4 linked regions of the Homo sapiens genome follow. The protein of the gene in region 3 purifies or fractionates together with the protein of the main gene of each other region. This does not show direct contact. Each region holds a gene or a part of one and is shown on either strand. Other genes may lie near its edges. The genes, in order: DTL, DDB2, COPS5 and DCAF11.

Region 1 (7,022 bases), on a different chromosome or scaffold from region 3:
AAATATTAAGTCAGTCAATGAAATGAGTCCTAAAAAGATAAGTGACACTACACTGAATGTTAAAAAGAATAGATATAGGTGTCAAAAGTATTACTGTGGTGTGGCAAAATGATTATAAAAGATTGTGGAGAAGTCATAAAAATCTAGAAAGATTTTGCACTCAAATTGTTTTGTAAGTATCTAAGTTTCACTGTATTTTAAATAATCACAAAATGGAATTACAAACTGGAAATCTACTTATGGATGTTGGCAACTTTCCCATGAACAACAGCTTTATCTATAAAAAGAGGATGGCATACTGTCTAACAGGAGAGGGGAGATATTTTTGAATTGATATCCTGGAGCATGATGAAGGCTTTGGTCAATCAGGCAACAGGGCTGAGGAGTATGGACCCTGACAGGAGGGATTTTAATGGGAGTAAGTAGAGTTGCCAGATAAAATACAGCACATTCAGTTACATTTGAATTTCAGACAAACAAAAATAGTTTCTTAGCATAAAACATTTTTACTAAAAATATGGCCCATGCAAAATTTGTTTTGTATTTATGTGCTGAATTTGGCAGCACTAGGAATAAATAGATTTCTTTCTTTAAAAAAAAAAAAAAGCATCCTGACTTGAGACATCTGGGTGTCTGGCCCCTTTTAAGTTAGGAAATGTATCTTCCCACCACTGCTGACTTACCGGGCTTGGCAATTTCTTTCCGCTCTGTCTCCTGGAATTGGGTGTCTGGGATGACGGACTTCGTGGAGATGGATTCTCAGCCTTCCGTTTGGCTGCCATGGCCAACAACCAGTTTTTATTCTCTGGGGAACTATTCTCTTTGCCTACCATTTCAGACCCTTCTCCACAAGGTCTCAAAGGAAGAGGTAGCGTTCCACAGCTTTCTGAAGCATACGGACTGATAGGAGACGGAGGCTCTGAGATACTGGTACCAGCTCCTTCAATTTTGCTTGATTTGGTAGGACCTAGAGAGTCCTTACTAAGGTCTTCCTGGTTACCAGCAAGGCAGCACAGATCCAAATGAAGATTTTCAACTTGGCCATCAAGCTCAGTCACACAGTTACAACTCTTCACACACTTTTGTTTCACACTCTCCAGACAGCTTGAGTCTAGCCTCCTCTTTACTCTATTTCTAGACTCAGAGCAAGCCTCTGCTTGGGATGACTTCTGGCTCACAGGAATAAGGGCTTTTCTCGGAGACATGATCTTGGTCTCCGAAGCAGGTGGAGTGATGGGTGGTGATGAGGAAGGTGTTCGGGTCACCCAGTTTCTAATCGACATCTTGAAAGATGAAGGTGGCTTGGGAGAGACGGAGGAGACAGAGCCTCTTCTGTTGATGGGAGACCGGGCCTTGGCAGGAGAGGTTTTAATAGAGAACGTAGGAGTATTTGAAGGAAGAGGGAGGTCTCCAGCACAGCTTGGGGCACAAGCTGCGGATGACGGGGAAGAATTGGATGGATTGCACTTTGCCCTGGGGGCTTTGGCAGGAGTACTCTGGCTACTCGTTACTGTTACTGAAAAAGAGGAGAGGATCATGAAGATCAGAAGTGAAAGCCATACAAAGTCCCTAAATTCTCATCAAGAAAAATCATAGCTAACCTAATCATCTAAGGGTCAATTTGCCAGTAAGTAGGTATACATCACTTGATTCCAACCACACCCTTTTATCATTTTCCTTTCTCTTTTCCAAGTCACCAACCTCCCAACTATCCCATTATAAAATATATACTTGTAAAAATCGACAAAATACCGAAAAACATAAAGAGAAAAAATTTAAAGCACTTACGTAAACCATGTTTAGCATACTTTCTATATTTGTGCATGTGATACATACTATACATCTCAACTTTTTTCTTTACAAAAATGAGACTGATTTAAGGGGAAAGTGGCAGATAGGAGGCAGGACTAATTTGCCACTCAGACAGACAGAACAGCATGTGGAGACTCACATAGTGAACTTTGGCTCCAAGAACTATCACAGGAACATACCAGAAAAAACAAAAGAATTAACAGATCCTTTGAAAGAAGTGGCTTGCTGCTGCAAAATCCACAAGACAGCAGAAAAATTGAGTGCCCAAAGTGTGAGAGGGCTCCCGAAGCTGTGTGCTTGGTCGAAGAGGACAACCATTCCTGATAAGAGGAGAATCGGTCTTCAGTCAAGGGTATACGAGTAAATGTGCTCCCCTGCTAGAACCTCCAAACAAGCTCTCAAGGTCCAAAGTGTGAGAGGGTGGCTGGGTGTGGTGGCTCATGCCTGTAATCCCAGCACTATGGGAGGCCGAGGTGGGTGGATCACTTGAGGTCAGGAGTTCAACACTAGCCTGGCCAACATGGTGAAACCCTGTCTCTACTAAAAATACAAAAATTAGCCAGGCATGGTGGTGTGCACCTGTAGTCCCAGCTACTCAGGAGGCTGAGGCAGAAGAGTTGCTTGAACCTGGGAGGTGGAAGTTGCAGTGAGCCAAGATCGCATGCACTGCACTCCAGCCTGCCTGACAGCGAGACTCCGTTTCAAAACAAACAAACAAACAAACAAACAAACAAAAAACAGTGTGAGAGGGGTAAAGTCCACTTCTGCACACATCCTCACTGAGGATCCAGATCATGGGAGAAGGAGAACTGAAATGAATTTAGAGAGCCAAACAAAATATAAAAGTAGAAGCAGCAGCAGGAAGAGCCCTGTAGGCACTCCTGGTCCCCAGGGAAACCATTTCTGACTATCTCACAGGGGTCTTTGGAGAGGGCAGCCAATGGAATTGGGGAAGGACCATAGGGAGAAGGAGACTTTCAGCTGAACTTTGTAATGATTTCAACTGAGCGTGAATTTTCCTGGGCAGAATCTGCAGGGGGATGGGACAAATAGGAAGTGCAGATATGAGCACAGAAGCTGTGGCAGGCAGATGGACAAGGCCTAACAGCCCTGCTTGCTTTCTCGGCGGGGAGTTTTGTAGTCTAGGGCAAGATCTCCACCCTGTGCACTGGAGGCATGGATATAAATTTGGTTCTGTTGGCTGTTGGGGAAGCACTGCAGGAGTGAGACTGGCCTTGCTGGCTGTGGTCTGTCACTGCCGGCTTTCCCCTATTTCCCTGGTGATGTGTATGAAGCAGCAGAGGCAGCCATAATCTCCCTTAGAACGTAACTCCATTGGCCTGTTAACCACCACTCCCATCGCCCAGAGGCCACAGCAAGCCCTGCCCAAGGAGTCTGAGCTCAGACACACTATCCCTGCCCCCACCAGATGGTCTTTCTCTAACCGCCCTGGTAGCCGTAAACAAAAGACAAAAACTCGTGGGGCCCTGCTCATTGCCTGAGAAGCCCGAAAACCTATCCAGGAAACCGTAAGGCAAGCTTATATCCCCCGCTATACTACTGCAGTTGATACTCTCTTGAAAGTGCCACCTCCTGGCTGGAGGCCAACCAATTCAAGCCATTACAGCAATTCAACAGAACAACCCTGCTCCAAGAAAGCAGAAAATAACAGCTAATTCTACTGCCTGTAACATCTTGGCCAACCAGAGAGGTCCTGAGTCTGTCCATGTAATAACTTCAGTGCTAGTATAACTAGCATTCAAGACAACCAGTACACTAAATAAAACTACAACCAAGTACTCTCACACAGTCCACTTCACTCCTTTCCTACCACCTCCATTAGAGCAGGTGCTAGTATCCATGGCATACAGACCTGAAGACAGATCACATCACAGGACTCTTAGCAGACACTCTCCAGTACCAGCCTAGAACCCAGTAGCTCTGCTGGGTGGCTCGACCCAGAAGAGCAATAACAATCACTGCAGTCCAGCTCTCAGAAAGCCCCACCCCTAGGGAAGGGGGAGAGCACCACACCAAGGGATCACTCTGTGGGACAAAAGAATTTAAACAGCACACATTGAGTCCCAGATCTTTCTTCTGACATAGTCCACCCAAACGAGAAGGAACCAGAAAAACAATTCAGGTAATATGACAAAACAAGGTTCTATAACCACCCCTAAAAGATTATACTAGCTTACCAGCAATGGATCCAAACCAATAATAAATCTTTGAATTGCCAGAAAAGAATTTAGAAGGTCAATTATTAAGCTACTCAAGGAAGCACCAGAGAAAGATGAAAACCAACTTAAATTTAAAAATAAAACAAAACAGGATGTAGACGAAAAAAATCTCCAGAGAAATAGATATCATAAATAAAAAACAATCATGACTTCTGGAAATGAAAGACACATTTAGAGAAATGCAAAATACACTGGAAAGTTTTAACAATAGAACCAAACAAGTAGAAGAAAGAATTTTGGAGCTCAAAGACAAGGCTCTTGAATTAACCCAATTCAACAAAGACAAAGGCAAAAGAATAAAAACTTCTCTGGCCTTGCTCGAGATCTAGACATCCAAATACAAGAAGCTCAAAGAACACCCAGGAAATTCATCACAAAAAGATCATCACCTAGACACACAGTCATCAGGCTATCTAAAGTCAAGATGAAGGAAAAAATCTTAAGAGCTGGGAGGCAAAAGCATCAGGTAACCTGTAAAGGAAAAACCTATCAGATTAACAGCAGATACTCTACAAGCTAGAGGGGATAAAGGTCTTATCTTTAGCCTTATTAAATAATTATTAGCTGACAAAATAATTATCAGCCAAGAATTTTGTATCCAGTGAAACTAAGCTTCATAAATGAAGAAAAGATGAAAGTCTTTTTCAAACGCTGAGAGAATTTGCCACTACCAAGCCAGCATAGTTTACAAAAACTGCTAAAAGGAGTTCTAAATCTTAGAGCAAAACCTTGAAATACACAAAAATAGAATCTCATCTCATAGTGGGGGACTTCAATACAGTAAGTCAACATAGAAACAATGGACTTATACCCTAGAACAAATGGACTTAACAGGTATTTACAGAACATTCTACCCAACAACTGCAGAATATACATTCTATTCATCAGAACATTCATGGAACATTCTCCAAGATAGAGACCATATGATAGGCCACAAAACAAGTCTCAATAAATTTAAGAAAATCAAAATTATATCAAGTACTCTCTCAGACCATAGTGGAATAAAATTGGAAGTCAACTCCAAAGGGAATTCTTAGAACCATGCAACATTAAATAATCCGCTCCTGAATGATCTTTGGGTCAATAATGAAATCAAAATCAAGCTGGAAATTAAAAAAATTCTTTGAACTGAATGAAAAAAGTGACACAACCTAACAAAACCTCTAAGATACAGCAAAAGCAGTGCTAAGAGGAAAGTTCACAGCATTAAGTGCCTACATCAAAAAGTCTGAAAGAGCACAAATTGACAATCTAAGGTCACACCTCAAGAACTAGAGAAATAAGAACAAACCAAACCCAAACCCAGGAGGAGGAAAGATATAACAAAGACCAGAGTAGAACTTAATAAAAATGAAACAACAACAACAAAATACAAAAGATAAATGAAACAAAAAGCTGGTTCTTTGAAAAGATAAACAAAATTGATAGCCCATTAGTGAGATTAACCAAGAAAAGAAGAGAGAAGATCCAAATAAGTTCAATTAGAAATGAAACAGGAAATATTAACAACGAATACCACAGAAATACAAAAGATCATTCAAGGCTACTATGAACACATTTGTGCTCACAAACTAGAAAACCTAGAGGAGATGGATAAATTCCTGGAAATATACAACCTCCTAGATTAAACCAGGAAGAAATAAGAACTCTGAACAGACCAATAACAAGCACTTAGATTGAAATGGTAATAAAAAAATTGCCAAGAAGAAAAAGTCCAGGACCAGATGGATTCACTGCTGAATTCTATCAGACATTCAAAGAAGAACTGGTACCAATCTTACTGAAACCATTCCAAAAGAGAAAGAGGGAATACTCCCTAAATCATCCTATGAAGCCAGTATCACTCTAATACCAAAACCAGGAAAGGACATGACAAAAAAGAAAACTACAGACCAATATCCCTGATGAACATAGATGCAAAAATCCTCAACAAAATACTAGCTAACCAAATCCAACAGTATATCAAAAAGATAATCTACCATGATCAAATGGATTTCAAACCAGGGATGCAGGGAAAGTTTAATATACACAAGTCAATACATGTGATACACCATATAAACAGAATTAAAAACAAAAATCAGGCCGGGTGCGGTGGCTCATGCCTGTAATCCCAGCACTTTGGGAGGCCGAGGAGGGCAGATCACTTGAGGTCAGGAGTTTGAGACCAGCCTGGCCAACATGGTGAAACCCCATCTAAAAATACAAAAATTAGCCAGATGTGGTATCTCAGCTACTTGGGAGGCTGAGGCAGGAGAATCCCTTGAACCTGGGTGGTGGAGGTTGCAGTGAGCTGAGATGGTACCACTGCACCCCAGCCTGGGCAACAAGAGCGAAACTCTAAGAGAAAAACAAACGAAAACACATGATCACTTCAATAGAAGCAGAAAAAACGTCTGACAAAATCCAGCATCCCTTTATGATGAAAACACTCAGCAAAATCAGCATAGAAGGAACATACTTGAAGGTAATAAAAGCCATCCATGACAAACCCACAGCCAACGTTATACTGAACGGGGAAAAGTTGAAAGCATTCCCCATGAGAACTGGAAAAAGACAAGGATGCCCACTTTCACCACTTCTATTCAACATAGTAGTGGAAGCCCTAGCCAGCCACAGTCAGTCAGAAAAGAGAAATTAAAAGGCATCCAAATTGGTAAAGAGGAAGTCAACCTGTCACTGTTAGTAAATGATATGATTGTATACCTAGAAAACCCTAAAAACTCATCCAAAAAGCTCCTAGATCTGATAAATGAATTCTGTTAGGTTTCAGGATACAAAATCAATGTACATAAATCAGTAGTACTGCTATACAGCAACAGCAAACAAGCTGCAAATCAAATCAACAACTCAACCCCTTTTACAATAGCTGCAAAACCTAGGAATATACCTAACTAAGGAAGTAAAAGACCTCTACAAGGAAAACTACAAAACACTGCTAAAAGAAATCAGATGACACAAACAAATGGAAAA
Region 2 (7,712 bases), on a different chromosome or scaffold from region 3:
TAATAATAAAACTCCGGTATCCTGCACAGCTGGCTCTGCGTGAATTACTCTTTCTCTGTTGCAATTCCCCTGTCTTGATGAGTTGGCTCAGGCAAAGTGAACCCCTTGGGTCGTTACAACAGTACTACTGTCTCCATAGAATTAGCTTTCCTGAGTGCATCCAAAAATCTTAATTGGTGACCAGGCATGGTAGTTCATGCCTGTAATCAAAGCAATTTGGGAAGCTGAGGCTAGAGGATGGCTTGAGCCCAGGAGTTCAAGGCCAGTCTGGGCAACATAGTGAGACCTTGTCTCTATAAAACCAAAAACCAAAAACCTTGGTGGGCATAGCATACTTAGTCTTCAAATGTGTACCTACCTTGAAGTATTTTACTTGTTTCACATATATTTTTATTCAGTTCCCAGTAGGTTGTAAATCTTTTAGAGGCAAAGTCCATTTCTTACACTTCAATATCCCCTGCAACTGAGCACCCTGCTGAAGGACAGGTTGGTCTTAGTTGGCATGTTGGTTGGTCTGAATAAGGGGAGGGGGCGAACAGTTTGCTTCTGCAACACAGCTCTGAAAACACAGCTCTAGGCTAGCAGGGGAGAAGCTCCCAGCTTGCCCCTTTCCCAGGCAAAACCATTTCTTTTTTTTAATTTTTAATTTTTTATTTTTTGAGACAGAGTCTTACTCTGTCGTCCAGGCTGGAGTGCAGTGATGTGATCTCAGCCTTTTTGTGTTTTTTTTTCTTTTTTTTGAGACGGAGTCTCACTCTGTCACCCAGGCTGGAGTGCAGTGGCGCGATCTCGGCTCACTGTAAGCTCTGCCTCCCAAGTTCACGCCATTCTCCTGCCTCAGCCTCCCGAGTAGCTGGGACTACAGGCGCCCGCCACCACGCCTGGCTAATTTTTTTTGTATTTTTAGTAGAGACAGGGTTTCACCGTGTTAGCCAGGATGGTCTCAATCTCCTGACCTCGTGATCTGCCCGCCTGGGCCTCCCAAAGTGCTGGGATTACAGGCGTGAGCCACCACGCCTGGCCGTGATCTCAGCTTACTGCAACCTCTGCCTTCCCGGTTCAAGCGATTCTCATGCCTCAGCCTCCTGAGTAGCTGGGATGACCGGCACGTGCCCCATGCCTGGCTAATTTTTGTATTTTTAATAGAGAGGGGTTTCACCATGTTGGCCAGGTGGGTCTCAAACTCCTGGCCTCAGGTGATCTGCCCACCTCGGTCTCCTATTGGGATTATAGGCGTGAGCCACCGCAACCGGCCTTCTAATTTCCCTTTTGGAGCATTCATTCCGTTGCAAGAGCTTATTTAATTTTTATTTATTTATTTATTTATTTATTTTTGAGACAGAGTTTTGCTCTTGTTGCCCAGGCTGGAGGGCTATCACGCCATCTTGGCTCACCGCAACCTTCGCCTCCTGGGTCCAAGTGATTGTCCTGCCTCAGGCTCCTGAGTAGCTGGGATTACAGGCATGTGCCACCATGCCCTGCTAATTTTGTATTTTCACTAGAGATGGGTTTTCTCCATGTTGGTCAGGCAGGTCTCGAACTCCCGACCTCAGGTGATCCGGCCGCCTCGGCCTCCCAAAGTGCTGGAATTACAGGCGTGAGCCACTGCGCCTGGCCAATTTTTATTTATTTATTTAGAAACAGGGTAAACCTCTGTCATCCGGGCTGGAGTGCAGTGGCACAATTGTAGCTCACTGCAGTCCCAAACTCCTGGGCTTAAGCGATCCTCCTGCCTTGGCCTCCCAAGTAGCTGGGACTACAGGCGTGTGCTACCGCACCTAGCTAAGTTGTGTATTTTCTAATTTTTTAGACAGGGGTCTCAGTATTGCTGAGGCTGATCTCCAACTCCTGGGCTGAAGCGATCCTATCCTCTTGCCCTCTCGAAGTGCTGAGATTACCAGCATGAGCCACCACACTGGACCAAGAGTTGATTTTGGTAACATCTTCTGTCCCTATCTGTCTGAAAAATCCTTGAGAGTAGGATCTACCATTAATGCATTAAACAAATTATTATTTTTTGTTTGTTTATTTTGAGATGGAGTCTTACTCTGTAACCCAGGCTAGAGTGCAGTGGCGCTATCTCAGCTCACTGAAACCTCTGCCTCCCAGGTTCAAGTGATTCTCCTGCCTCAGCCTCCTGAATAGCTGGGATTACAGGTGCGTGCCATGATGCCCAGCTAATTTTTTATATTTATTTATTTTTATTTTTATTTTTTTGAGTTGGAGTCTTGCTCTGTCGCCTAGGCTGGAATGCTGTGGCATGATCTTGGCTCACTGCAGCCTCCCTCTCCTCGGTTCAAGCGATTCTCCTACCTCAGCCTCCTGAGTAGCTGGGACCACAGGCAAGTGCCACCACGCCCCAGCTAATTTTTGTATTTTTAGTAGAGACGGGGTTTCACCATGTTGGTCAGGCTAGTCTCGAACTCCTGACCTCAAGTGATCTGCCTGCTTCATCCTCCCAAAGCGCTGGGATTACAGGCATGAGCCACTGCGCCTGATGGTATTTTTAGTAGAGAAAGGGTTTCACCATGTTGGCCCGGCTGGTCTTGAACTCCTGGCCTCAAGTGATTCACCTGCCTTAGGCTCCCAAAGTGCTGGGATTACAGGCTTGAGCCAATGCGATGGCCTACCATTAATGCATTTTTGTATATCTCCTCCCACCCCCACAAACTGTCAGGCACGGGGCTTAGTGGGTGGAGGAAAGGCCCAGCAATGCCTGAGTAAGCCCAACTCCTGCCTGCCTCTTCGCAGAAACTAGGGTGCATCCAAACTGTCTCTTCTCAGGCTAGGCAGGACAGCGCGGCCTCACCTGTGAACCTTCAAGACTTGGACTTTGGCTGAAGCGAGGGCGTAGGAGTTCTAAGTACCGCTGGCTGCACGCCCTCTGGCCCATCACGTCCCAGGCTGCTCCTAGGTGGACACCCAACAGGTTAGGCAAGTCTTAGTTAAAAGCAGTGAGAGGCCAAGAGGCTGGGCATGGTGGCTCACGCCTATAATCCCAGCATTTTGGGAGGCCGAGGCAGGCAGATCACAAGGTCAGAAGATCGAGACCATCCTGGCCAACATGGTGAAACCCTGTCTCTACTAAAATACAAAAAATTAGTCAGGCGTGGTGGTGTGTGCCTCTAGTCCCAGCTGCTCCGGAGACTGAGGCAGGGGAATCGCTTGAACCCGGGAGGCGGAGATTGCAGTGAGCCGAGATTGTGCCACTGCACTCCGGCCTGGGCAACAGAGTGAGACTCCGTCTCAAAAAAAAAAAAAAAAAAAAAGCAGTGAGGAGGCTGGGCACAGTGGCTCACACCTGTAATCTCAGCACTTTGGCAGACCGAGGTGGATGGATGCCAGGAGTTCTAGACCAGCCTAGGCAACTTAGGGAGACTCTGTCTCTACAAAAAATGCAAAAATTAGCTGAGTGTTGCGGCGCGCACCTGTAGTCCCAGCTACTCGGGAGGCTGAGGTGGGAGGATCGATGTCCAGGAAGTCCAGCCTGCATTGAGCCCACATCCTGCCACTGCACTCCAGCCTGGGTGACAGAGAGAGGCCCTGTCTCAAAAAAAAAAAAAAAAAAAAGAAAGAGAGAAAGAAAGAAAGAAAAAATAAAAACAGCCAACGACCAAACAAATAAAAGAGCAGTGAGAACCAGACACGGTGGCTCATGCCTGTAATCCCAGCACTTTGGGAGGCAGAGGCAGGAGGATCACTTGAGCCCAGGAGGTCCAGACCAACGTGGGAAACATAGCAAGACCTTGTCTCTACAAAAATAAAAATAAAAAAATTAGGCTTGGGGATACAGGTCTGCAAGCCTACTTGGGAGGCTGAGGTGGGAGGATCAGTGAAACTTGAGGTCAAGGCTGCAGTGAGCTGTGATTACATCACTGCACTCCAGCCTGGGTAACGGAAGAGAGACACTGCCTCTAGGAAAAAAAAAAAAAAAAAAAAAAAAAGGCAAGGAGTTCCAATCATTCTCCCTTCACAGAGAAGCAGCTTGGATTCGATGGGACTGTAGTTTCTGGAATCCGACTGCAAAGCTGACCGCTGGTAGAGCCCAGCTTCTAACTTAGGAAAGGCACTAGCTCTCTACAAAGCCGCCACTCCCCAACTACACCCTGTAGGGACCAGCCAATCCCAAAGCCCGAGCGGGCGTCATCACCAATTGCAAGGCGGGAGACAGAGCCTTGGCTGGCACCGGGCCTCCTCCCCGGACCCGCAGAGGCCTGGCAGCGCCGCGTTTGAGGAGGGTTCGTGTCAGGAAGTCAAGGCTGGATGATCGCTTAAGCCCAGGAGTTAAAGACCGGCCCGGACAACAAAGCGAGACCCCGTCTCTCCAGAAAAAGAAAAAAAGAGAGAGAGAGAGAGAAATTAGCCGGGCGTGGTGGCGTACGCTTGTAGTCCCATCTACTTAGGAGGCTGAGGTGGGAGGATCGCTTGAGCCCAGGAGGTGGAGGCTGCACTGAGCTATGATCGCCCCACTGCCCTCCAGAGTGAGCGACAGAGCCAGACCCTGTTGCTAAAAAAAAAAAAAAAATCCATAAAGCCGGGGACCATCTTTGCTCCAGGGAGGTCAGCTGACCCGGGCTGGCACTGGCCCTGGCGCAGTTCCCGCCCCTCCCGGGAGCGCTGGCACCGCCCCTTGGCACCACCCCCTCCCCGCGCCCCCGCCTTCCAGGAAGGGGCGGGGTCTCCGAGACGGGTGGGGCCGGAGCTCCAAGCTGGTTTGAACAAGCCCTGGGCATGTTTGGCGGGAAGTTGGCTTAGCTCGGCTACCTGTGGCCCCGCAGTTTTGTAGTCCCCGCCTTGTTTCTCCCCAGAGGCCTCTCAATCCTCCCTCCATGATCTTCGCATAGAGCACAGTACCCCTTCACACGGAGGACGCGATGGCTCCCAAGAAACGCCCAGAAACCCAGAAGACCTCCGAGATTGTATTACGCCCCAGGAACAAGAGGAGCAGGAGTCCCCTGGAGCTGGAGCCCGAGGCCAAGAAGCTCTGTGCGAAGGGCTCCGGTACTGCCTGTGCCTGCTGCTTGAATATTTCCGCCTTTTAGGGTGCTCGCGCAGGAGGCTGCAGCGGGGGATGGGTGCTCCGAGGCTCCCGAGGCCCGCGCAGGTCACGGGTGCCTCCGGCTGTGCATTCTACCTGCAGGTCCTTTGACACCAGAGTGTTTAGGTTTCAACACCTCTCCCGCTAGGTAACAGGAAGCAGATGAGCTCCGTAACAACAGACACACGGACTTGTCAGATTCCTTGTTCGTATCAGGGTTCTTGCACAGTTAGGACGGCTTCAGAGAATCCTACCTTTCCTGGCGCTGTGTGTGCTGGATTTCATAGTCACGCTTGTTAGCTGCACGTCCTCGGTGGTCAGTTGTGAGAGCCCCCAATTCCTTCCTCCTTAGAAAGCTCATTCTCTGAGGTTTACTGGGGCTTGAACCTGGGGCTATAAGGAGTTTCGAGACACTCAAAAACGAGCTGGGGCTTGTTAATCAAGTGGTTTTTGTCCATGAGAAGAAAGAATTGGTTGTCAAGACGTCGGACCTATAGTGATTGGGTCCTCAAATACAGTTTGGTGATCAGGAGTTGTTGCTTTATTGCTATTCTAATTTCACTTACCTCCCCAGAAGTAACCTAGTTAAGAGCATTTCCAGGCCTTCCTATTCCTTCTTTTCCTAAACGGTGACTTCTGCCATGCTGCCCTAAAATCTTTTTATTGTGCATTATATGTGATTTATAAAATTGTGACCCAGTCCCATCTCGAGTTTTGCAGCCCAAACTGGGAAGAGTTCTGCATTGTACTTTATCCTTGTGTGTTTCTTTGGCTGGGGTCTCAGGAACCCTGCACGACTGTATTTACTTTCACTTCAGACTTACTGTTTGTGGGAGTGTTTTGGGGAAGGGGCCAAATCCTCACTCATTTTTTTATTTCTGGTGCTCGTTGAGACCACACAGACATGGAAAGGCCGCAGGAGGTGATGAGACAGAGATTAACCGTGCCGAATGAAACAAGGCTTCCTTTCGGGGAATTCAGCAGAAAAACCTTTCGTGAGATTGGAGAGGAAAATATGTCTGTTCTGCTTGGCAGGTCCTAGCAGAAGATGTGACTCAGACTGCCTCTGGGTGGGGCTGGCTGGCCCACAGATCCTGCCACCATGCCGCAGCATCGTCAGGACCCTCCACCAGCATAAGCTGGGCAGAGCTTCCTGGCCATCTGTCCAGCAGGTAAGGCATTTTTTGCCTCAAGTCCTCAAGGGTTTACACGTGCATTTTTACTATTGCATGCTCCCAAATTAGATGATGGCTTGGTTCACCAGCTTGTCAGAGTGGTCCGATCACCCAGACTGTGGTGACTGGCCTACTGGGCACTCAGCCAGGTAAAAAATGTCTTATGTTGTAAAGGTCCCAGCTGGAATGCACTCTGCCCCTTTTGCTTTCCAAGATTATTCGTTCGTGTACATTGCAAATATTTTCATGCACAGGGCAGGCAGTTAGCTTTCCTTTGGTGGGAGGACTTGGATCTAGGGCTCATCCATGAAGGAGGCAGAGATTGGCAGTTTACCCAGAACTTGGGTTTTAATTCAACCTAATTCATTTCTCTCTGTGGCAGGGGCTCCAGCAGTCCTTTTTGCACACTCTGGATTCTTACCGGATATTACAAAAGGCTGCCCCCTTTGACAGGAGGGCTACATCCTTGGCGTGGCACCCAACTCACCCCAGCACCGTGGCTGTGGGTTCCAAAGGGGGAGATATCATGCTCTGGAATTTTGGCATCAAGGACAAACCCACCTTCATCAAAGGGGTGAGCAGTTCCCCATGCCAGGTCGTGCTAAAGAAGTGTTTGTTGGCTGGGTGCAGTGGTTCGCACCTGTAATCCCAGCACTTTGGGAGGCCAAGGTGGGTGGATCACCTGAGGTATGGAGTTTGAGACCAGCCTGGCCAACATGGTGAAACCCCGTCTCTACTAAAAATACAAAAATTAGCTGGGTGTGGTGGCAGGCGCCTATAATCCCAGCTACTCAGGAGGCTGAGGCAGGAGAATTGCTTGAACCCGGGAGGCAGAGGTTGCAGTGAGCCAAGATTGCACCATTACACTCCAGCCTGGGCAACAAGAGTGAAACTCCATCTCAAAATAATAATAATAATAATAATAAAAGAAAATAAAAATAAGGAGTGTTTGTTGAAGGCATGAAAGGAATATTGATGTCATCCAGTAATCATCAGGAAGAGGACTGGGATCAAAATTAACTGTGGGCATTTTCAAATACGTAAATGATGATGATATATATTTTTCTAATGCCTGTCCTTAAAATACTAGAAGATATAGACTATTGATCACCCATAGAATTGAAGCCCCTTCTGGGCTGGGCGCAGTGGCTCAGGCCTGTAATCCTAGCACTTTGGGAGGCCAAGGTGGGCTGACCACGAGGTCAAGAGATGGAGACCATCCTGGCCAACATGGTGAAACCCCGTCTCTACTAAAGATACAAAAAATTAGCTGGATGTGGTGGTGTGCGCCTGTAGTCCCAGCTACTTGGGACACTGAGGCAGGAGAATCGCTTGAACCCGGGAGGCGAAGGTTGCAGTGAGCCGAAATCACGCCACTGCACTCCAGCCTGGGCAACAGAGCGAGACTCCATCTCAAAAAAAAAGAATTGAAGCCCCTTCTTACCACATTGACCTCATCTTACGCCATTGTCTTTTCTCACTTCTATGCTGTAGCCACA
Region 3 (7,022 bases):
CCTACCAACTAAGGGTTAGAGATAATAAGTATTCTTCATATAGAGGAGCTCAAGCTAGAACTGCCTGAGAAGCCTCAGGGAAAAGGCAAGGTGTAGGGTAAACATTTTTGAGTCTATGGTATGGATATGTGGAGAGCAAGGAGGGCATTAGGCAGAGAGCATCAACACACAAAAAGGAAAGACATGTAAGAGATAATAAGGCAATGGGTTTAGCTGGAAAATTTAGCAAGAGAAGAATTATGTGAGGGGAAGCTAGAAAGCTATGCTGGGGTCTAGGTGGTGAAGGATGTTACACAAAAGGTTAAGAATTTTTTTTTTTTTTTTGAGACAGAGTCTTGCTTGGTCACCCAGGCTGGAGTGCAATGGCACAATCTCAGCTCACCACAACCTCTGCTTCCCGGGTTCAAGCGATTCTCCTGCCTCAGCCTCCCGAGTAGCTGGGACTACAGGCTCCCTCCACCATGCCCAGCTAATTTTTGTATTTTTGGTAGAGATGGGGTTTCACAATGTTGGTCAGGCTGGTCTTGAACTCCCAACCTCAGGTGATCTGCCCGCCTTGGCGTCCCAAAGTGCTGGGAGCCACAGTGCTCGGCCAAACTTTGGGAGACGGAGGCAGAAGAATCGCTTGAACCCGGGAGGCAGAGGTTGAAGTGAGCCGAGATCGCGCCACTGCACTCCAGCCTGGGCAACAAGAGCAAGACTCTGTCTTAAAAAAAAAAAAAAAAAGAAATTTAAACTTTATCCTGTAGATACCCGGGACTCTTGGAAGGTGCTTGAGTAGAATGGAAGGTACTTGAGTAGAGTAATAATACAGTCAAAGGGGTGTTTTATAGTACCATTAGGAGATATTACAGGAGAGAAACTGGAGGCAGGGATTCCACAAAGGAAGCCACTGCAGCAGGGAAGATGAGAAGAGACAGAGGTTCAGACTCAGAGGTTAGTGGTGCGAAAGATAAAGACACATAGGCACCCTTTTAAAAACAGAATGCTTTTTCTGAGCCGCAATCTCACTCTGTCACTTAGGCTGGAGTGCAGTTGTGCTATCTGGGCTCACTGCAACGTTTGCCTCCCAGGTTCAAGTGATCGTTCTGCCATAGCCTCCCGAGTAGCTGGGATTACAGGCGCCCACCACCATGCCCAGCTAATTTTTTGTATTTTTAGCAGAGACAGGGTTTCACCATGTTGTCCAGGCTGGTCTCGAACTCCTGACCTCAAGTGATCCACCGCCTCAGACTCCCAAAGTGCAAAAATGCTTACGGATTAAAGTTTAGCGTGAGGAAATAAAACATAATAAATTAAACACATCATGCTGGGCGTGTTGGCTCACGCCTATAATCCCAGCACTTTGGGAGGCTGAGGCAGGTGGATCACCTGAGGTCAGGAGTTCGAGACCAGCATGGCCAACATGGTGAAACCCTGTCTCTACTAAAAATACAAAAATTAGCTGGGTGTGGTGGTGTGTGCTTGTAATCCCAGCTACTCGGGAGGCTGAGGCAGGAGAATCGCTTGAACCTGGGAGGCGGAGGTTGCAGTGAGCCGAGATGGCACCACTGTACTCCAGCCTGGGTGACAGAGTGAGACTCCATCACACACACACACAAAGAACATTTTTGGGCCGGGCACGGTGGCTCACGCCTGTAATCCCAGCACTTTGGGAGGCTGAGGCGGGCAGATCACGAGGTCATGAGATTGAGACCATCCTGGCTAAGACGGTGAAACCCCATCTCTACTAAAAATACAAAAAATTAGTCGAGCATGATGGTGGGCGCCTGTAGTTCCAGCTACTCGGGAGGGTGAGGCAGGATAATGGCGTGAACCTGGGAGGCAGAGCTTGCAGTGAGCCGAGATCACACCACTGCACTCCAGCCTGGGTGACAGAGCAAGACTCCATTTAAAAAAAAAAAAAAAAAAAGAACATTTTAGCAATTCCAGGTTCAAAATTCTAGTCTTTAGCAATGTAGGCCGCTAGCAAAGTAGCTATCCCTCTTTGGTAGGCTCATATTTCAGAGTGGCAAGGTAAGGTGTTTGCCAAAAGAAAGTTATTTAAGGATTGGTACGCAACACGATCTTAAAAAAAAAAGTTATTTAAGGAAGACAGAAGGATAAACTAACGGAATAGACAAACAGGGAAAGTAGATCTGTTTGAATACGGAAAACATAAACTGTCTCAATCTTTTTTTGTTTTGAAGTATAAACCTTTGATACAACTCAATATAAATAAAAAAAATTGAGAGTTCCTCTGAAGATTAAAGTATCACAGCAAAGGTATTTCCAGGCTTAGGAGCAATTCTCTCAAACAGGAATCATTTAAATTCTTTTTAATAGGGCAAATTAAATAATTAACACTAAACTTCTATCTGAATATATATTTGTTTCTATAGCTGGGCACAGTGGTGTGCCTGTAGTCCCTGGGCAACCTAGTGAGACTCCATCTGAAATAAAAAAACAGGAACCAAAAAAAAGGAAGAAAAGAGAATTGTATTTACAGAAATATGTCAGAGATTATTGAAAACCACATATATTTAAGAATTTAATTTTAGAAATTCTAGAATTTTCTAAGAACTTCTAAATAGAAAAATTAGAGCAGTAGTAGCACATGGGTAGCCAAAGTATTCTTTGAAGTTGGCATAAGTGGTACAGAAAAAGAGGGCAGTAGATAATCATTTATTCATTTAAGCAGCAATTTTTTTTGGTGCCCTCTTCTATGTGGCATGCCCTGTTTTAAATCCAAGGATACAGCAGTAAATTTGTGTTCACATTCTAAAGGGGTCAAAAAAAAGATGTCAAAACATATCAGATGGTTACAGTGCTAAGAAGAAAAAGCGGGGAAAGAGGAAACAGAGGTGTTACTTTACATAGGTAAAATACTACACCATGATCATGCCTAATGAACTAATGAACATTTTCTGTTAGCACGACCCTGTAAACAGATACTCAATGCTTAAAGCAGTTAGTGAGCCACATGGAAATAAGAGCGTTCTAGGCAGAGGGAACAGCAAGTGCCAGTGCTCTGAGCCATGAGCCTGCTGGCACATTTTACAAACCATAAGGAAGTCAATATGGCTGGATTGCAGACCAGCAGAAGTTCAGTGATAGGACATGAGCTCACAGAGGCTGTAGGAGCCAGACCACACAGAGGTGTGCAGTCTGTGATAAGGACTAAGGATCTTGTTCTTGGTAAGATGGGAAGTCATTCTGAAAAGGAAGAGGATTATCCGGCTTACATCTTAACAGAATCAGTCTGGCTGAAAACAGAGCTTTAAGAAGTGAAGGGCACAAGTAGAAAGACTCGCCGGAAGGCAAGTGCTTGATTGGGGCTCCAGATGGCAGTGGCTTGGGTGAAAAGGATAGTAAAAGAGGTGGTGAGATATATTTAGAAGGTAGAGAAAACTGTCCCCATTGGCTTCTTTAACATTAAAATAATTTAAGATATAATTCATACATCATAAAATTCACCATCAAAAAAGGTACGTAGGCCGGGCACAGTGGCTCACACCTGTAATCCCAGCACTTTGGGAGGCCGAGGCGGGTGGATCACGAGGTCAGGAGTTTGAGACCAGCCTGGCCAACACGGTGAAACCCTGTCTCTACTAAAAATACAAAAATTAGCTAGGTGTGGTGGCACACACCTATAATCCCAGCTACTTGGGAGGCTGAGGCAGGAGAATTGCTTGAACCTAGGAGGCGGAGGTTGCAGTGAGCCAAGATCACGCCACTGCACTCCAGCCTGGGCAACAGAGCAAGACTATGTCTTGGGGGTGGGGGGAGGGTATGTAATACAGTGGTTTTTAGTAAGAATTCTTACACTTTTATAACTTTGACTTTTTAATATGGCTTCTTTAGTCTTTCAAATCTTTCAAAGATTAGAAAGAATCTTTGTTCAGTAGAAATTATATATTTTGAGGGCTGCAGACATGCTAGTGTCAGCTGGTCCTGAACCCATCTTTCACTTGTTATAATTTTATGTAGGCCAAATATCTTGTACATTAGAAAAAGTTTAGGTTGTTTAAAAGGCAAATGACATGCTAGTTTGAAACATTAATAAAAAATGCAAAAGAAAAAAATTTAAAAATGCAAACATTTACCTAAATTCATATACTATTATTGTAAAAGCTATCATGAAATGCATTTTGTCTATGCCTTTTGTCTCATCTGTAAAATAAGGGGCTTGGACTGGTTGATATCTAAGGTTTCTTTAGGCCTCCTGAGTGCTGGGACTACAGGACTGTGCCACTTCATCTGGCTAACTTTTATAACATTTTTTGTAGAGATGGGGTCTCACTATGTTGCCCAGGCTAGTGTCGAATTCCTGTCCTCAAGCAATCCTCTCACTGTGGCTTCCCAAAGTGCTGGGATTATAGGTGTGAGTCACCGTGCCTGGCCCAGATATGTTTTTAAATTACTTACTGTTTGCAGTGTACACCAAAATCTTCTATTTTATTAAGTGGAATAGTCTGGTACTCAGAAGGTCCTTCATCAGGAGGTTTGTAGCCCTAAACAAAAATGAGGTAAACAGAAGATTAAGAAAAAAAAAAAAAAAAATATATATATATATATATATATATATATATATATATATATATATATATATATATATATAAAAATGAGAAAAACATGTTTTCTATGGAGCTTTCTAATAATAGGATTATTAACTTTCGGAGGCAAATATTTAACATGAGCATTCTAATAAAAAAAAAATACTGTTTCTACTTTCCCCCCACCCAGTTTGGTGGCTGTAGGCTGGATTTTGCTTACAGATTTATTTTTCTTCTCCTTAGGTGATGTACTTTTGTTCTAATAACTATTTCAGATTGCGGCCTCCTGCCAGGGAAGGAAATAGACCTATAGATTTAGCTTGTTTTTTCTCTAGTACCTGGCAGAATGCCACAGGCACACAGATACTTATTAATAAATAAAGACTGCTTTTCCAGTAAAATTAACAATATATAACATAAATGTATTACCCTTTGCTAGGGACAGCTTGTGGTAGTTTACTATTTTGTAAATATTATTGAATTGTTTTAATAACAAGAGATATTGCTAATGTCTTTAATAATAAGTCAAATATTTGGAATTTAAAAAATGTAAGGACTTATAATTTTAAAAATTACTAAGCATTCCTACCGTCCCAGCTACTTGGGAGGCTGAGTTGGCTTGAGCCTAGGCGATGAAGGCTGTAGTACACTATGATCATGCCTGTGAATAGCCACTGTACTCCAGCCTAGGTAACACAGTGAGACTCTAACTCTTAAAAAAAAAAAAAGTTACCTTTGGGTATGTCCTAAAGGCGCCAAGATTCACTTTCCCTGCGGATATTGTTCTTGTTGGATCAATCTATAAGAAAGATATATTTAATATCTGCTGATATAAAACTGTATGCCTTTTATTTAAACATTATAAACCTAGAAATGTATACATACATATAACACTATATACATACATAATAACCAAATAAGAATAAACCAAAAAACCATAAAAGTTCAGTAAGAGGGTAATATAAGTGTCTCACAGCTAACTTAGAGATTCAAATTATTATAACATTTAAGAATATTATTTGAAGGTTTGCTCATCTATTTTTAAAAAGTTTTCTTTTGTCCTTTTAAGAGGTGAATAACTCCTACCTTCCTCATAAAACCTGGATTGCACTTAAAACACCCTGAACATAATAAGAGCTGCTCTAGCAATTCCTGCTTAACTCAGTTCAGTCAACACTGATTGAATGCCTATGATGAGCTGGCACTGAGACATAGATGCTATGACTACCCACAATTTACAGAGGGGAGAAGCAAGATACACAGTGGTTAAATAATTTGCTCAAAGTCCCAGCTTCTAAGAGATGGAATTCACATTGAAACCTAGGCAGACTGATACCAGAGCAATTTCTCTTTACTACACTATTCTTATTTCTCAGTATACTTGCTTCAGCAAATCTTCATAAAGAACTTAATTAAACTGGTTTTAAAATTCTTACCACCACTGCTACAAATGGTTCCTGGAACTGCTGATTGAGCATCTGAGTACTAACATCAATCCCAGAAAGCCAGCAGCCATAGCCAGGGTGGCTATGATACCACCCGATTGCATTTTCAAGGCGGCCAACCTAACAAATGAAGGGGCAAAAAAGTTTAAGATTACTCTTTAATTAATTTACAAGGTACCAGTACAATAAGGGTAACCAGTCTCCTTCCCATCTCCTTCTCCTCAATTACCCACTTTTCTCAGCCCAGATGCGAAATCTATGGGCAATTGCTTACCCTTACAGAGATATTCTTTGTATACAGAATACATATTCTTTGCACATACATAGATTGATAAAAACACACACAATAGCATACCACATAACATAATAATGTTTTACACTTTGTTTTTTCACTCAATAAACTGCTTTGGAGTTTGCTTCATATAAATCATCAATATATATGATGGTTATCTTTTTATTTTTTTTTCTTTTAAAGGCTGCCTGGCAGTCCACTGATGGATATACCATAATTTATTTAGCCAGTTTTATACTCAGGAACTGAGTTAGGTTGTTTCCAAATTTTTTATTTTAAACACGTATCTGATAATAAGTGTGAGAGTTTATTTAAAAAAAAAATAAAATCCATGCCATAGACCGGGTGCAGTGGCTCATGCCTGTAATCCCAGCACTTTGGGAGGCTGAGGTGGTGGATCACCTGAGGACAGGAGTTTGGGACCAGCCAGGCCAACACAGAGAAAACCCGTCTCTACTAAAAATAGAAAAATTATCCAGGCCTACTGGTGCACGCCTGTAGTCCCAGCTACTCAGGAGGCTGAGGAGGGAGAATTGCTTCAGCCCAGGAGATGGAGGTTGCAGTGAGCTGAGATCACGCCACTGCACTCCAGCCTGGGCAACAGAGTGAGTCCCTGTCTCGAAAAAAAAAAAACAACAACAACAAAAAACAAAAAAAACCATGCTATAAGTCTTATCAGGCTTTTAATCTCGTACATTTTACATATAAATCATTAAAATTTAAATATAAAATTTCATGTAAAGGGGATAA
Region 4 (7,347 bases), on a different chromosome or scaffold from region 3:
TAGGAGATAAGACCTATCTGGCCCTTAGAGTCTCTTCACCAAGCCCCATACTCACTGAGATATCACTCGAGACTGTTCTCCAAGGGAGAAGCTTCCCCGATGGCAGAGGCCCCGTTCTCTCTAAATGGAAGGGATTGGGGAATATTGCTAGCAGAAATAGAGGGCCACTTCAGCCATATCAAGCCCCCTCCTCCAAAGATATTGCTCTTGTTATAGAAATGGACACACACATCATAGTCTGTCCCACAGAACTCCGATGGAGGCTGGTTAACTCTCCAGCCCCAGCGCTTGAGGCTTCTACTTTGGAAAGTTGACTTCCTTTTTCTCTGGGGCTGGCAGAGCTTCTGGCTGCTTTGGCAGGCCTGCTGCCAGGCTGGGAGGTGGAGAGGCCTACCTGGTGCAACATTCGAGGAAAGCTGTGCTTCTGGGCGGCCCGCCTAAGCCCCAGCTGCCCTGTGGCCAGTTCCACTTGTGTCTTGATCTCATTGAATTCCAGCTCCCGGGTGTCAGGGGTAGCATCCACTGTGAGTACCAAGGAGAAGTTTCATCCTAGGTCTGCCAGCCTCAGAGGACAGTTAGCAGAACTGTACCCAAGCCCACCCCTGTGGCTGAATATACTGGGGCTGTAAGGACTCCTTATTCCTTAAATTATCGTACCTTCTTTCAATGTAACCTATCATTCAAAATATCACTAAAAGGTTTTCTAGTAAAAGTCTTCCAACATTAGGGGCTTTTCCTCTTACCAGGTGGGTTGTATCGATCCCCAAGACGACCATCCCAAGCTCTGTCATTCTCTTCCTCTGAGTCCAAGAGGGCCTGAATGAATTGTAAATTTGCTGCACCTCCTCCCTGCACCAACCTCACTTGGCCTCTGTGGAGAGACCCCCATTATAAAGGAGGGGACTTCTTCCCCCAAACCAACCAAATTCAGAGTCAATGGCTATCTAGCTCTTAGACCACTTGGTACTCATTTTGAGGTTTGAGGCTGACTAGACCTTGGCTGTTATTTTTGGTCTCCTATAAAACACAGTAGGAAAGAGAGTTTTACTCTTACAGCAAGAGCAAGACCAACATGCTGTGGACGTGACCTACTAAGTTGACCTCCCAGCGAGCTAAACATTCTAACATCATTTCCTTAGAACAAGAGCAAGACCAATACGCTGTGGACATGACCTACTAAGTTGACCTCCCAACAAGCTAAACATCCTCACAGCATTTCCTTCTGAGCCTCTGCCTGAGAAGTCCACCACAGAAGACAATATTCTAAGCTGGGTGCGGTGGTGTGTGCAACTGTAGTCTTAGCTACCTGGGAGGCAAGGATTGCTTGAGCCCAGGAGTTGCAGGCTGTGGTGTGCACTTGATCACACCTGTGAATAGCCCGTTCTCCAGACTGGGGAACACAGTGAGCCCTGTCTATGTCTACTAAAAACAACACAAAACACAAACAAAAAAGAATACAATATTCTGAAGGGACCCCCAAACCCATCTTCTCCTCAAAGAGCCATAAGCAAAGAAAGAAAGCCAGCTGCACCCTTTTCCAGTCAATTCCAGGTGGTCTCTCCCTTCAAGGCATTCTTTCCTCAAGAACAGGTTAGAGTCAGGGCAAATTAAACTTGTTTTTCAAGTAAATCGAAGTGGCCTCATATCATGTGTCAACTGCCTTACTAAAAAGTTCAACACTCCCTTCCCATCTCTTCACCCCTTACATCACTCCTTTCCCACTAGGACCCCCCCCTTTTTTTTTTCAAGCTTACTTGGAAAATAGACTATATTTGTGTAGTCACAGAGACAGGCTCCCTTGAATAGCCCCTCAAACACATGAGCAGGTCCTCTTGGTGACCCTCCCTAGGTAAGAACCACTCTTACTGGGTATGGAGCTGAGTGCCATGGGTGCCCAGCAGGGAAAGGCTGTTCAGCTCAAACAGAACAGCTGTCCTGAGCGAATCCCATTTCCTAACCTCTGTAATTTTCCTGCCTGGAGTTGGGATCAAGGCACTGTGGTAGCACCTGCTGGGGGTCACACCAGAGGGTAAGTTACCTGCGGAGGAGATAGGCCAGTACCTGGGCCAGATCCACATCTTCATCCTCTTCTTCCTCTTCCTCACTCCGACGCAGGCCAGCCCCTCTTCGGGGCAAGCCCTCGGAGGGGTCTCCGGACCCGGATCCTGCACTGCTGCTGTTCCGCGATCCCATCTTCTGGTCACAGCATTCTTAGGTCCTGTGCGGGGGCTCCTCCTGTCACCTCCTTGGGTTTGGTGAAAGCAAAGCGTGCTCTAGAAATACCAGGGTCTCCTGAGACGGGGTAGTAGCTATCTCTAGGAGGGTGACCCTTCCTCGGGGCTGAGATCCCTTTTCTTTAGCCTATGCCAACTACCAAGGCGTCGGGAACACAAACCTTCTCCAATCCTGTGAAGCAAAGAAAGCAAGAGTGAACCGTAGTGCGCTACCCTAGCTCACCAACTGAAGAAAGATTTGTTTTCTACACCAAACTCACCTATCGAAGTCCCCGGACTGGGGAGCGGGAGGGGTGTTGGGCGGTGTTGGATTTCCAGGTAACCTCTCTGACCGACCAATCGAAATCCCTCTCGGAAGAAAGCGCTTCACTAGCTTATCTCATCTAACCAATTAGAAGCCTTAGGACTCAAAGACCCTCGACGCCCCCACCTTATCGACCAATCAGAGCGCCCCCTTACAAAGGCCGGCAGCAGTGACAGCCAATGAAAATAGAATTTGGCCTAACACCCCTCCTTCCTCGCCTCACGCCCACGTGGTGCGCCGGGGGTGTGTACGCCATGAGGGGGAGGAAGCCGAGAAGCACCTCCCACTGAAGCCGGCGGTAACCGCCCCACGCGAGACCACCCACCAGCCAGGAGCGGTCGCAGGACCCGCAGCGGCGCGAGGCCTTGTTTACACCGACTGCCGCCACTGCGTTGGCCAACCGCTCCTCCGTCACGCGCTTCGCTCGTCACGCATCTCGCGGCTTCCTGGCCGGCGGGCTGCAAACGTCACACGACGGCCCCGCCCCCTTGGCCAGCCAACTGGACAGCGGAGCACGATGATTGATAGGTAGGCGGGAGAATGCGCGAGGTGCCTGAGGGGAGGAGAAAGTGCACACCCAAGGAGGGCTGTTAGCTCTTGCTGGGGAGGAGTAAGTGGGAACTGCCAGCTTCCTGAATCAGAGACAGCCGAACTAGGCGTAACGGCTGAGAGGCGGGGCTTAAAAAAGAAACGTTTGGTGGTTCGCTACCGAGAGGTATTTTAGCAAGGGATATAATTTACTGTCTGTCCCTAAAGATCATTTGGCATCGCACTTTTCAGACAGTGCCCAAGGGCCTCCTTTCTCCCCACTGCTTCCCCTGTCCAGCTGGAGCCGTTCTTCTGTCGCTGGCCGCAGCTCCAGTCGGTTCTGCCCTAAGGGGTGCCCAGCGTCCCAGTAGACCTCCATACCGTCCTTCCGGGCTTAGCTTTTGGAAGCCTTGCTCTTGGGACGGTCCCCTTTTAGACCTCCCTTTATCCGGTCTGACAATTTTTTAAGACAATCCCTGGCTTTCCGCCGCGGTCTTTGCAGACGTTCCCTAATACACGCGTCTTTCTGTCAAAGCTTTTCCGGTTCCGCTGTCCCCTTTGACGCTCCCTTGGCCCTCCGGGATTTGCAGACCTTCGCTAGTCCCTCTGTCCTCGCGGTGCCTCTCCGCCCCCGGCCGCGGGTCCAGGGTGCGCGCTCGCCGCCTCCTGCCCCCTCCTGCCCCCTCCTGCGGGTTTATGAGTAACAAGCCTGAGTCCAAGGCCGGGAGTTGCCACATCTCTGATCCTCGCCCTGGCTGGGTGGGGACGTGTGGGTTGAATGACCTTGCTGTCTCGGGCTCAGAGGCTCAGGGTCCGAGCTGAACTTCATTCCCTGCAGCCTGCACTTCCTTGGGAAAGCTGCGAGCTTCCCTCCGCCCGCTCCTGAGGGCAGGGATGGGAGCGAGGGCTCGTGGCCTTCTTGGGCCCTCCTGGGGCCTCTCCCAGTGAGGGCGAGGGTTTGGCCAGCTTTCGGGCGACGTCTCCTAGTCTCTAGATCCGGAGACCTGAGCTTGTCACCAGGGCTAGCTTTGATGGCCTCTGCGCTTAGAAGGGTCCTGAATGTTTGGTTTAATGTTCTAGTGTTAACGGTCTTGAAATTATTAGTAATTTTAAAGCAAGTGCCTGGTATTTTCATCTTGCACTCGGCTCCACTGATTATGTAGGCGGTCTGCTGGGCGCCCATCCTCTATTGCCAGATTACTTACTATCTGTGCTTTAACGTTTATTGAGACTTTAGGATTCCGTGGTTTCTGGGTTATCCAGCCTGGAAAATCGGGATCTTTATTTATTGATTGATTTTACCTGCGTTCTCCCAGAATGTGACGGAATCATTTTTTTTTTTTATTATACTCTAAGTTTTAGGGTACATGTGCACATTGTGCAGGTTAGTTACATATGTATACATGTGCCATGCTGGTGCGCTGCACCACTAACGTGTCATCTAGCATTAGGTATATCTCCCAATGCTATCCCTCCCCCCTCCCCCGACCCCACCACAGTCCCCAGAGTGTGATATTCCCCTTCCTGTGTCCATGTGATCTCATTGTTCAATTCCCACCTATGAGTGAGAATATGCGGTGTTTGGTTTTTTGTTCTTGCGATAGTTTACTGAGAATGATGGTTTCCAATTTCATCCATGTCCCTACAAAGGACATGAACTCATCATTTTTTATGGCTGCATAGTATTCCATGGTGTATATGTGCCACATTTTCTTAATCCAGTCTATCATTGTTGGACATTTGGGTTGGTTCCAAGTCTTTGCTATTGTGAATAGTGCCGCAATAAACATACGTGTGCATGTGTCTTTATAGCAGCATGATTTATAGTCCTTTGGGTATATACCCAGTAATGGGATGGCTGGGTCAAATGGTATTTCTAGTTCTAGATCCCTGAGGAATCGCCACACTGACTTCCACAATGGTTGAACTAGTTTACAGTCCCACCAACAGTGTAAAAGTGTTCCTATTTCTCCACATCCTCTCCAGCACCTGTTGTTTCCTGACTTTTTAATGATTGCCATTCTAACTGGTGTGAGATGATATCTCATAGTGGTTTTGATTTGCATTTCTCTGATGGCCAGTGATGATGAGCATTTCTTCATGTGTTTTTTGGCTGCATAAATGTCTGCTTTTGAGAAGTGTCTGTTCATGTCCTTCGCCCACTTTTTGATGGGGTTGTTTGTTTTTTTCTTGTAAATTTGTTTGAGTTCATTGTAGATTCTGGATATTAGCCCTTTGTCAGATGAGTAGGTTGCGAAAATTTTCTCCCATGTTGTAGGTTGCCTGTTCACTCTGATGGTAGTTTCTTTTGCTGTGCAGAAGCTCTTTAGTTTAATTAGATCCCATTTGTCATCCTCCCTAACTCATTTTATGAGGCCAGCATCATTCTGATACCAAAGCCGGGCAGAGACACAACCAAAAAAGAGAATTTTAGACCAATATCCTTGATGAACATTGATGCAAAAATCCTCAATAAAATACTGGCAAACCGAATCCAGCAGCACATCAAAAAGCTTATCGACCATGATCAAGTGGGCTTCATCCCTGGGATGCAAGGCTGGTTCAATATACGCAAATCAATAAATGTAATCCAGCATATAAACAGAGCCAAAGACAAAAACCACATGATTATCTCAATAGATGCAGAAAAAGCCTTTGACAAAATTCAACAACCCTTCATGCTAAAAACTCTCAATAAATTAGGTATTGATGGGACGTATTTCAAAATAATAAGAGCTATCTATGACAAACCCACAGCCAATATCATACTGAATGGGCAAAAACTGGAAGCATTCCCTTTGAAAACTGGCACAAGACAGGGATGCCCTCTCTCACCGCTCCTATTCAACATAGTGTTGGAAGTTCTGGCCAGGGCAATCAGGCAGGAGAAGGAAATAAAGGGTATTCAATTAGGAAAAGAGGAAGTCAAATTGTCCCTGTTTGCAGACGACATGATTGTTTATCTAGAAAACCCCATCGTCTCAGCCCAAAATCTCCTTAAGCTGATAAGCAACTTCAGCAAAGTCTCAGGACGGAATCATTTTTTAAAAAAATTGGCCGGGCGCGGTGGCTCACGCCTGTAATCCCAGCACTTTGGGAGGCCAAGGCGGGTGGATCACCTGAGGTCAGGAGTTCGAGACCAGCCTGGCCAACATGGTGAAACCCCGTCACTAAAAAAAAAAAAGCCGAGTGTGGTGGCATGCGCTTGTAATCCCAGCCACTCGAGAGGCTGAGGCAAGAGAATCGCTTGAACCCGGGAGGTGGAGGTTGCATTGAGCCGAGATCACGCCACTGCACTCCAGCCTGGGCTACAAAAGCGAAACTCCGTCACACACACACAAAAAACAATCAACCAACCAAACAAAAAACACCTATGCCTCTTCCGGTAGTTGATCTGCTGAAGAATCCTCCTCTAACAGCATTTAGTGCTTAACGCACAAGTGAGCTGGGCACGGTGGCTTACGACTGTAATTCCAGCACTGTGGGAGGCCGAGGAGGAGGATCATTTGTGGCCAGGAGTTCAAGGCCAGCCTGGGCAACATAGTGAGACCCAGTCTACAAAAAGAAAAAAAAAATAGCCGGCCATCGTGGCGCGTGCCTATGGTCCCAACTTACTTGGGAAGGATGAAGGAGGGAATCTTGAGCCTATGAGGTGGAGGCTGCAGTGAGCCATGATTGCTCCACTGTACTCCAGCCTGGGGATAGAGCTAAAGACTGTCTCTAAAAGAAAATCAACAAATGGCTCACTATTGTTCATTGTTTCAAATACAAACTTCCAAACCTGGATGTCTATTTTTAGTAACCTCATTTTTTGATATTTCTGCTAAGCAAATATGCCAATAAATAGCTTGTTTATTTTTACCTCTGCACCTTCCCAGGAGAATTTCTTATTAGAGGGAAGCTGTCTACAAAACTCCCTTCCTCACAGCCTTGCACTTTGACCCAGTAATACTGCTTCCAGAAATCTAGGCCGGACATGCATAAAAATTTATGTTCTACATAGCAATTATTGATAAAAGTGGAACACTGGAAACAAAGATCTAAATATCTTGCAATATGGGATTGTTAAATAAATTATGGTCCATGTAGTATAGACACAGAAATACCAGGTAGCTATTAAAATGGTGTTGTAGTCTTCAATTTTTTTTTAAGGTACCTATTCCTGGTATAGGTTTGTTGTAGCCTTCTATTTTTATACCATAGGAAATTGTGCAAACTACATTGTCAAGTTAAAAAAATAAAGATAATCATTTCTTCTGGTGACATGTAATAGATGCAAAA

Evidence for each region.
Region 1: the proteins of COPS5 (region 3) and DTL purify together in Homo sapiens (affinity purification with mass spectrometry; 6 studies listed by BioGRID and IntAct, with this or other methods). This does not show direct contact.
Region 2: the proteins of COPS5 (region 3) and DDB2 purify together in Homo sapiens (affinity purification with mass spectrometry; 12 studies listed by BioGRID and IntAct, with this or other methods). This does not show direct contact.
Region 4: the proteins of COPS5 (region 3) and DCAF11 purify together in Homo sapiens (affinity purification with mass spectrometry; 6 studies listed by BioGRID and IntAct, with this or other methods). This does not show direct contact.

Annotation. Positions count from the first base shown.
Region 1 is NC_000001.11:212,094,746-212,101,767, reverse strand, and holds part of DTL (denticleless protein homolog), read right to left. Parts: intron 1,517-7,022; coding exon 684-1,516; intron 1-683. UniProt on the Homo sapiens protein: Substrate-specific adapter of a DCX (DDB1-CUL4-X-box) E3 ubiquitin-protein ligase complex required for cell cycle control, DNA damage response and translesion DNA synthesis.
Region 2 is NC_000011.10:47,210,263-47,217,974, forward strand, and holds the start of DDB2 (DNA damage-binding protein 2), read left to right. Parts: upstream 1-4,711; 5' UTR 4,712-4,874; coding exon 4,875-5,001; intron 5,002-5,931; exon of another isoform or gene 5,932-6,073; coding exon 6,074-6,210; intron 6,211-6,595; coding exon 6,596-6,787; intron 6,788-7,712.
Region 3 is NC_000008.11:67,052,112-67,059,133, forward strand, and holds part of COPS5 (COP9 signalosome complex subunit 5), read right to left. Parts: intron 6,101-7,022; coding exon 5,972-6,100; intron 5,335-5,971; coding exon 5,269-5,334; intron 4,494-5,268; coding exon 4,408-4,493; intron 1-4,407. UniProt on the Homo sapiens protein: Probable protease subunit of the COP9 signalosome complex (CSN), a complex involved in various cellular and developmental processes.
Region 4 is NC_000014.9:24,110,441-24,117,787, reverse strand, and holds the start of DCAF11 (DDB1- and CUL4-associated factor 11), read right to left. Parts: upstream 3,012-7,347; 5' UTR 2,495-3,011; exon of another isoform or gene 2,407-2,494; 5' UTR 2,194-2,406; coding exon 2,039-2,193; intron 872-2,038; coding exon 744-871; intron 523-743; coding exon 395-522; intron 121-394; coding exon 56-120; intron 1-55. UniProt on the Homo sapiens protein: May function as a substrate receptor for CUL4-DDB1 E3 ubiquitin-protein ligase complex.